Linked DNA regions of Homo sapiens: region 1 is linked to region 2. The links come from fine-mapping of genetic effects on gene expression. Tissue or cell type: whole blood. Region 2 holds a variant in brackets; the other region holds the start of a gene. All regions are shown on one strand. Distances are from middle to middle.

What was found. PIP is the estimated chance that this variant, and not a neighbour inherited with it, causes the effect.
Region 1: IL18R1 starts here. The variant in region 2 is fine-mapped to the expression of IL18R1 in whole blood (INTERVAL, PIP 0.95).

What each region holds. Positions count from the first base shown.
Region 1 is chr2:102,353,496-102,358,495 of GRCh38, reverse strand. IL18R1 (interleukin 18 receptor 1) reads right to left here and starts at 2,700. Exons shown (of 11, transcript NM_003855.5): 1 at 2,096-2,700. RefSeq lists silencers at 2,646-2,705, 2,726-2,835 and an enhancer at 2,430-2,931.
Region 2 is chr2:102,193,016-102,198,015 of GRCh38, reverse strand. All of the region lies in intron 4 of IL1RL2 (interleukin 1 receptor like 2), which reads right to left. Among named protein-coding and RNA genes, the nearest start is that of IL1RL2, 8.5 kb to the right of the region's middle. RefSeq lists an enhancer at 1-939. The variant GAGA/A (reference allele first, on the strand shown) is at 2,455.

The DNA.
Region 1 (5,000 bases), 160 kb before region 2:
TACACACACATAACGAATAGTCACAAACTTACCTAATCACCCAAAGGCATGAAGTTTTCTCTAAATGAAAAAAAAAAGTTTCCTTCAAAAATTGGGTGACCTAGGCTTAAGGTCAGTTCCAAGCTGACCACTCTGTCTCCCAAGGCAGCACAGTAAAAAGCCCTTCCAGAGGGTCCAAACAGTCACCTGAACCCCTGGCTCTGCCCAGTTGCCCTTGTTTATGGGTCCCACCCTGAGAAACTGACCTTTCTCTAAAAGTAATTCACAGAAACACATAATGTACAGGGAAAGAGCCATTTCAAAGCTCTTTCTAATGAGGAACCTGAGATTTGAGGAAGTGAAATGGCCAGCCTCAGATTACAGCTATTCACAAGGACACACATGAATCAATGTAGATGCCTCAATATAAATCACTCATTAGCAACACATACAATCGAGCAACTCCTGAGACAAAATGCCTGGATGAAAATCATAACACCAGTTTTTTTTTAATATAATTTTTCTTCTACAGTGTTCCATGCATAGTCGTTTTACTCAGCCTGTGAGATGATAAAACAACCAAATGCAAAGAGGAGAAAATGATCTTGGGGCATAACATACACACACACACACACGCTTAAACTCTAACAAACAAAATAATTTGTGTGGAATCTGGCTTCTCATCTGTAAGGCCAAGAAAATCAATGCCACCTCATAGTCCTTGTCACACAAGTGTCTGTTGTTAGCCTTATGCTTCCCCCCAAATCTGCCTATGCCTGTGCTACCTGGGCCACCCTCCCCACTTATCCCAGATGCCAGGTCCCTAGAGTCCTTTCAACTTGGCTCAGTATTTGCCTTCTCAAGGAAGCTCTCCAACTGCAACAGCCCCAAATGGCACATGCCTATGTCCAAGCCCGTCTCCATCACTCTGCAGGTGTTTCCATCACTCCTGGACTAGCTCCCACTCTCTGGTGAGGTCCCTGAAGGCAGGGACCCTGCCTTTTCTTTTTTTTCTTTTTTTTTTTTGAGATAGAGTCTCACTCTGTCGCCCAGGCTGGAGTGCAGTGGCACAATCTCTGCTCACTGCAACCTCTGCCTCCCAGGTTCAAGGGATTCTCCTGCCTCAGCCTCCCGAGTAGCTGGGATTACAGATGCATGCCACCATGCCTGGCTAATTTTCTGTATTTTTAGTAGAGACGGGGTTTCACCATGTTAGCCAGGATGGTCTCGATCTCCTGACCTCATGATCCGCCCACCTCAGCCTCCCAAGTGCTGGGATTTAGACCCTGCCTTTTCAATCCACATTCCTAGGCCTTAGCCTTAGTTCTCAGCCTTTGGATGTATATTTGTGCAGGGAGAGGGAAAACACTGTCCCCAGAACCTGCACAAACCCAATTCCCCAAATTTACCCCTCCTAGCCCATCCAAGGCCCTGAGGTTGAGAGGTGTGCTCCCAATAGCAGCACTGTGTATGACACAAAATCAGTATTTGCAAAGGGTCTTGAGAATGAAGCAAGGGAAGTCAGTGAAATGAATACAATAATCTTGGATCTCTGTATCTGGCTGCAATTGACACCTCATTAATTTGTCTGATAACTGCGATGCAAGGTGCTGGGCATTTTAACTTCCCAAGGCTGGGCAGAAAAAAGACAAAGGCTCTGGAATCAGAAAAACTGTAGGTGTGGATCTGGGATCTACTACTTAGTAGCTGGATACTCTTGGGTAAATGACGGAATTCCTCCTCCCTTTTATTAAAGCATAATAATAGTTCCTATTTCATGTGGCCCTTAGGAGGATTAAGTGAAAATAAGATATCTAAAAATTTTCTACAGTGTCAGGCACACAGTAAGCACTTAAAAAATGACAACTATTGTTATCATTTATTTCAGTCGTTCTCACCTCTCCAGAAAATAATTGGGGATGTCTTAATTTCTAAAACTATACTTTCAGAGAAAGACAGGATGCTGTCTCATCAATTATTCACACGTATTCACACACACACTATCTCTCTCTCTCTCTTAATTGATCTTGTTTTGAGAATCCCTCCCCGGATGGTGGTCTTCCCTTCCTCTGGGGGGTGGGGAGGGGATGCGGGTGGCAGCGGAGCCCACCCTTACCTTCAGAGAGGCGTCCCCGAGGCTGGGGCGGGGGCGGCAGCTCCTCCTTCACGCCAGGTCGCGACTGCGGAGGCCAAGTTCAGAAAGTAGGTGAGAAGCAGCGATCTCCGCCTCCTGACTACCGTGGAAAGTGAAAGAGAGGTGTGATTAAAGAGATAAGGCACCCAGAGAGGGCTACAAAAAAAAAAAAAAAGAAGAAGAAGGAAAAAAAGTAGGAACAGAAAGAAGAATGTCAGGCGTCTGGCAGCTCCTGGCTGCTAACCCCGGCCGGTGGAGGCTGCAGGTGGGCACTGCCCGCGGTCGGGCGAAGCTCCGGGTCCGGGAGTGTAGCGGTCTGGGGCGCTCTCAGTCTGGGGCGCTCCCTGGCGTAGAATCCTCCCTGACTCGGAGGTCCCGGTCTGGGGACCCTCCGGTCCGGGTGCTCCTCGCAGCCGTGCTCCAGGACCGGCTCCTCCACCCAGACGCCCCGCGTGGAGTTACCGGAGCTACTGGATCGCGGGGTCCAAAGGTTGCTGCTGGAAAACCCAGCGCCTTGCCCTTTTCCCGCGGACGGCGTGGGCCCCAGGCGTCTGGCGCTTCCTGCCCAGCCGCGCGGCGCGGGTCCCGGGAAAACCCGGGCTGTAGCCGGGTGACCTGCGGGGCCGGAAGGGGGCGCGCCCGGGCCGCTCGCAAGCACCCTGCAGGCCGCGGTTCACAGCAGAGGATGCCAGGAGGGAGGACCGCTGGCCGCAGCGGCCGCCCGGCTCTTCAGAGGAAGAGGAGGGGAGGGCTGAGGGTGGAAGAGGGGTCCCCGGGGGATGCCGAAGGTGAGAGGGGCTCCGCGTCTCAAGTACACAAATGCGCCCCAGGCTTTTTGCTTTCCCAGAAGGATGGGAGTTCACTATAGGGAAGTAATAGAGAGGGGTGCAATTGTTGAAGTTTTAATTTTTTTTAAGGAGGCCAAAGGGGAATGTGTGTTTCTAGATTTTTATTTTGTGGCAGAACTGTTATTTAACCAAAGGAAAAGGGAAACCCATAGCCGACAGGCAAAATGTTCAATTGGACAATGATTTTAATTCTTTTTACCCAATTTAGATAATTCACCACATAATAAATAAAAATATGTAATTATCTCAATAAATGCAAATAAAAGCATCTGGCAAAATTCAACACCCTTTCTGAATTAATAACGATCAGAAAACCGAGAGTAGAAATGATCTTTCTTAATCTGATAAAGAACATCTATAAGAAACCTACAGGTGACCTCATAATAGTGAAACATTTTACTTTTTCCTAAGATTAGTAATGAGATAAGGATTTTGGCTCCCACCTGGGACAACTGCTTTGCAACAAGTGAAGAAATAAAAATAAAATTAGAAAGCATAAAGATTGAGAAGAAAGAATTAAAACTACTGGTTTTAACAGAGAGCATAATTATATGTAGACCAACTTTTGAAATCTACAAAAAAAAAAACTACTGGAAATATTAAGTTTATCAAGATCATGGAATATAAAAATCAATAGCAATTCTATATATTAGAGATGGAAACTTGAAAAGTGAAGTTTGTTAAAAATGCCATTTACCATAGCATTTAAAAATCAAAATACCAAAGTATAAATTCATTGGATAATATATGAGATATCTCCTGTGAAAACTACAAAATATTGCTAACAGAGATGAAACATCTAAGTAATAAAGGGATATACCACGTTTACGGATTGGAAGACTTAAGACATCTATTCTCCACACTGTATATTTTTAGACTCTATATATTACAGAATCTATATATTTAATACAATTCAATCCAAATCCCAGGAAAATTTTTCAAAGAAATTAAGAAGCTGTTTCTAAAATTCATATGAAAATGCAAATAATCTAGGATTGTCCGGACAGAGACGGAGTTTTGCTCTTCTTGCCCAGGCTGGAGTGAGTGCAATGACGCGATCTCGGCTCACTGCAACCTCCGCCTCCCGGGTTCAAGCGATTCTCCTGCCTCAGCCGCCCGAGTAGCTGGGATTACAGGCATGCACTATCACGCCTGGCTACTTTTGTATTTTTAGTAGAGACAGGGTTTCTCCGTGTTGGTCAGGCTGGTTTTGAACTCTCGACCTCAGGTGATCCACCCATTTCAGCCTCCCAAAGTGTTGAAATTACAGGGGTGAGCCACCTGCCCGGCCTGTCTGGGCAATCTTGACAAAGATGAACAAAGTTGAGAGACTTATACTGACTTGAGGATTTATAATAAGGCAATAGTAATTATGGCAATGTGATATTCACAGAAACATACAAACATACAAAATAGAAAGTAGACTAATAGATCCACACATATCTAGTCAATTGATTTTTTTAACAAAGCACCATGTCAATTCAGTGGGGAAAAAACAGTCTTTCACAAACATTGCTGGAACAGCTGGGTACCTCTACAGAAGAAGCAGCAGCAGAAAAAAGAACTTTGTCCTTGCCTTGTTCTATATACAAGTATCAATTCACAATAGACCATGGACCTAAACATAAAAGCTAGAACCGTAAATATTTCATAAAAATACAGAGAAGACCCTTGAACAGGCAAAAAATAAATAAATAAATCATGCTCTTGGACAGGCAAAAAAAAAAAATTCTTAGCTAGGACACAAAAAAAAATAGCCATTTGGGACACATTGATTAATTGGACATCACCAAAATTAAAAATGTCTACTAAACAAAGACATCACTTAAAAATGAATAGATAACCCTGGAAATATTCTCACTTTACATCTATCTGGCAAAGAACTTGCATCCACAATACATAAATAATTCCTACACATCAACAATATAAAAAGAAATACAATTTAAATAAGGCAAAATATTTTGCCTTCACTAAAAAATATATACGAATGGCCAATGAAAACATGAAAAGGGCTCATCATCATGAGTCGGGGAACTTCA
Region 2 (5,000 bases):
TTCAAGACAAGATACTAGGTGCTTTGCTAAATCTGTGAAAGTACTCAGGAAGTGGCATCGAGGCCAGAACCACACTGCAGAAGTAGCTTGCCCTGAGAGCCGCTACCTCTACCACAATCTGGAAAGTGGGGAATCAACTCTGAAATACACCACCTGCAATTCAGAGACCAGGAGTTGCCGCTTATGCAACTCCAGTGTGTCAAGTAATGCCACATCAGGAAGAGCCACCCCAACAAATAAAGTGGAATACTCAGCTCCCACAGAACTGGAGACTGGACACTTCAATGCTGCTGGAGAAATTTCCGTGTCTCCAGGGCTCTGCTTTCCAGCAGAAAGAGCAGGAAGATCCTCCATCCTCACCTTTACCTTTCAGCAAAGCCAGCTGGAGACATGGAATTCCATCCAGAGCCTTAGCAGTAGGTGACTCAGCAAAATGTAAGGTGGTATGGTCATTTTGTTCCTGTGTCTTTTTAGTTTTATGGCCTCTACAGGATAAAAAGACTCACCATGGGCATTACACTTTTCCACCTGAACTTTCTATCCATTCAACTCACTTTTCTATCTTAACTGGAATTAGCCCACCTGACCTCTCTACTTTTGTCTAATTTCCAAGCTCTTTCAGGTATCATTTCCTTTCCTGTCCATCCTGGATTCACGTGTCCATCACTTGAATCACTTCCCTTCCAGTACCTCAACTCTGCAGCCCTCCGTCCTTCCAGCATCTTCACCTGCAAAGACCCATTCTGATGGATCCCTTCATCCCTCTCCTGCAAGCCTTCAACCAGAGAGCAGAGCACTATAGGAGATAATCACATAAACAGGGGTCTTGGTACCACTACAAATTCATTACATCTCCATCTATTTACTTACATTACTCTTTCAAATTTTCCCCATAACATCTCCTTACAATTAGAAAAATTAGGGGCCCTCAGACATGAGTTCCTCCTTTTCCCTAATTTTTCAGTTCTACTTTATAACTTTCTGAAATGAACCGCACTTCTTAACTTGATTTCTAGGATAGTCCAAATGATCAGCATGCCACCATTCTCAAGGCCTTCCAATGTATTCACTATAGCCCCACAGAAGGACTTTTCTCAAATGTGAATTTGCTCATGCCATTCTCCTGATGGTAGGATTCACTGTTGAAATGCTTTAGGTTGGCATAAATGGTGTTTATTTTCTAGCACCATCTTTCTACATGTGCCCTAAACTCTAACCAAGGCCCCCAAACACCATTCTCTTTCTCACCCAACGCCTTTGCACCTGCTGCTTCCCTCTAATTACTGACCTTCCTTGCCGTACCCACCAGGCTAACTGTGTTCACTCTTCAAGCACAGTTCAAAGTCACCTTTTCCAGGAAGCATAGCCATGGACATTCCCAGGGTCTGCTCTAGTTTTGCTTTCTTTATGTTCACCTCATGCTGTAATAAAATTCTTAGTTTACTTGTCTGCTTCCTCTGATAAATTGTAACTTCTTTGAAGACATATGACATCCCTTGGCACAGCACCAAGAAGATCACAGACTCCAGATATTGCAGAATTGATTCCAACCCTCTGGTTTTACAGATGACAACACTGAGGCCCAAAGAGTGATTCCAGGTCTGAGCACATGGTAGTGGCAAAAACAGCCATACCTGGATCACCAAATCTGAGCAGGTGGTATAGTATCAGGTGACCCCTCCTGCTTACACTGCTGACCCTCAGCTTTTGCCTACATTTGCAAGCCCAGGGGTTGTTTTTAAAATAAAGGCATCTAAGCGCCACCCATGGGTGACCTGCTTCAGTTAGCAGAAGGTGAGGCTGAACATCAGAATTTTTAAAAGATCCAGAGGATCAAATCCGATGCTCACTTAGGATTGCTAGTCATAGCCCTGAGTCCATCTCCAAGTGCTGCAGAAACAGAAGTTAGAATAGCCAAGGCAACATTTCAGAAAAAGGAAAAGCAGAGGACTTATACAAAACTTAAGACTTATCTAATGCCATAATAATTAACAAGCATAAGGGCCCGATGCGCTGGCTCACACCTGTAATCCCAGCACTTTGGGAGACTGAGACAAGTGGATCATCTGAGGTCAGTAGTTTGAGACAGCCTGGCCAACACGGTGAAATCCTGTCTCTAGTAAAAATACCAAAAATTAGCCAGTCATAGTGGTGTGCACCTGTAATCCCAACTACTCTGGAGGCTGAGGCAGGAGAATGGCTTGAACCCAGGAGGCAGAGGTTGCAATGAGTCAAGACCGCACCACTGCCCTCTAGCCTAGGAGAGAGACTGAGACTCCATCTGAAAAAAGAAAAAAAAAAAGAAAGAAAGAAGGAAGGAAGGAAGAAAGAAGAAAGAAAGAAAGAAAGAAAGAAAGAAAGAAAGAAAGAGAGAGAGAGAGAGAGAGAAAGAAAGAAAGAAAGAAAGAAAGAAAGAAAGAAAGAAAGAAAGAAAGAAAGAAAGAAAGAAAGAAA[GAGA/A]AAGAAAGAAATAGAATAAGGGAATGCTACAGAGGGTTCTGAAACAGATCTACACACAAAGACCAATATGATTTACGTTGCATGCAAAGCAACGTGAAAAGAACAGGTAAACTATAAGTCCACAGAGAAAAAAATTACATTTGACCCTACCAACACTACACACTTAAAAATCAGTGGAAAAAGAAAAACAATGAAACTTCAAGAAGAAAATATAGGAAAAAAGGTCTTTTTACTTAGGGGTAGGAAAAAGATTCTTAAACAAGTCACAGAAAGTACTAATCACAAAGGAAAATCAATACATCAGACTGCATTAAAACTAGGAAGTCTGAGACCTCATTACCAGAGTAGAAAGGTTAGCCATTGCTTAGAAGGACACATTGTAACAATTACTGATATCCAGATCTATAAAGAACTACTACAAATCAATGAGAAATAGACAAGAGGCTAGCAAACCACACAACGGGCCAAATGTGGCTAACCACCTGTTTTTGTAAATAAAATGTTATTGCAACACAACCACACTCCTTCATTTCTACATTGTCTACAACTGTTTTTGTGCTTCCAAAACAGAGTTGAGTGGGTGAAACAGAGACCATCCGGCCTACAATGCCTAAAATATTTATTATTTGGCTTTTCACAGAAAAAAAAAAATGATACCTCCTGGACAAGGTAACCCGCAGCCACTCAGGAGGCTGAGGCAGAAGGGTCACTCGAGCCCAGGGGTTCAAGGTTACAGTGAACTATGATTGCACTACCACACTCCAGCCGGGGCAACAGAGCAAGAGCTAGTCTCAAAAAAAATTTTCACAAGCAAGCACTCAAAGAAAAAAATTACACACACACACACAGACATCCAAGTGCCAATAAGAAAATTTAAAGAAGATCAACATTATCAGTAATCAGGGAAGTGTTAATTAAAGCTGAAATGAGACACAATTACTCATTTATCCAAATAGCAAAAATTAAAAAGACTAATAGTACCATGTGTTGTCAGGTATAGGGGCATAAATAACTCTTATACACTGCTGCTGGAACTGTTAATTGGCACCACTTTGGAAAATGGTTTGGCATTTTCTACGTACCCTTATGACCCAACTATTTCACTCTCATGTAATATGTCCCACAAAATTGCATTCATAAGTGAGGAAAGTGTTCATACCAGCTTTGATTCTAAGACCCAGAAGTTGGAAATGACTCAAGAGTCTAACAATAATAATAATGAAATAGTACACAGCAAAGAAAATGGATGAAATATAGCCACATGAAACAGCATAGATGATTCCCACTGTTTTGCTATTGAGCCAAGGAAGCTAGACATAAACACTACATATGATTTTATTCAAATTAAATAAAATTCAAAAACTGGTAAATCCAATCTATGATAGCATAAATCAGGGAAGTGGTTATTTGGGGGACTAGGGAGGCATAGTTTTTGCAAGATGGAAGAGGTGGGCCTTCGGAGGTGCTAGTAATGTTTTCTTTCTTAACTTTCATGGGAAAGGGTAATTAAAAGGTATGTTCACTTTCTGATAATCCAACAAGCTTGTCCAATTATGATTTCTGCATTTTATATGTATACGTTATACTTCAATGAAAAGGGGTTTTTTTAATGCATTGCAAACAATCATACCCAGGATATATAAATATATAAAATCTCCTATAAGTCACAAGAAAATGGCATGAAAAGTAAAATAAGAAATATACCAAAAGATATGAGTGGGCAGTTCAGAAGAGGATCCAGAAATGGCCAATAAACTGAAAAATGTGGTCAATCTCACTAATAATTAAGGAAAAGCAAAATAAAATAAAAAGGTACATTTTATACCCACCAAACTGATTTTAAAAATCAAAGGCTTATAATACAAAGTTCAACACAAGGTTGTAGGAAATCTAGAATACTCCTGGTGAGCCATGCATGGTGGTTCATGCCTGTAATCCTACCACTTTGGGAGGCCAAGGCCTGAGGACCACTTGAGGCCAGGAGTTCGAGACCAGTCTGGGCATCATAGCAAGATTCTGTCACACAAAAAATTTAAAAAATTACCTGGGCTTCCACTTGAGCCCAGGAATTAGGCTGCAGTGAGCCATGATCACACCACTGCACTCCAGCCTGGACAACAGAGTGAGACTCTGTCATAAAATAAAGTAAAATAAAATACTCCTGGCAAAAGTATAAACTGATACAAAATTCTGTGAAGCAATTTGTGTAACATCAACAAAGTTGAATACTTTGTTCATCTGCATGCCCTACAAATGAGCAATTCTAGGGCTAGTAATCTTAAAGGAATGCATTCACTGGCAAACGTGCCTTAAAATACAGGTATAAGGACACTCACTTCCACATTTCTTGTAAAAGAGGGAAACTAAACAACCTAAATGAACATGAAACATATAACAGAAAGGATCAACAAAGTCAAAAGTTAGCTTTTGAAAAGAGTACTAGAACTGACAAGTCTCTGATGAAACTAATCAAGTAAGTGTGTGTGTGTGTGCACGTGTGTGTGTATGTGTGTAAGAGAGAATGAATAATGACTGAAGGTGAA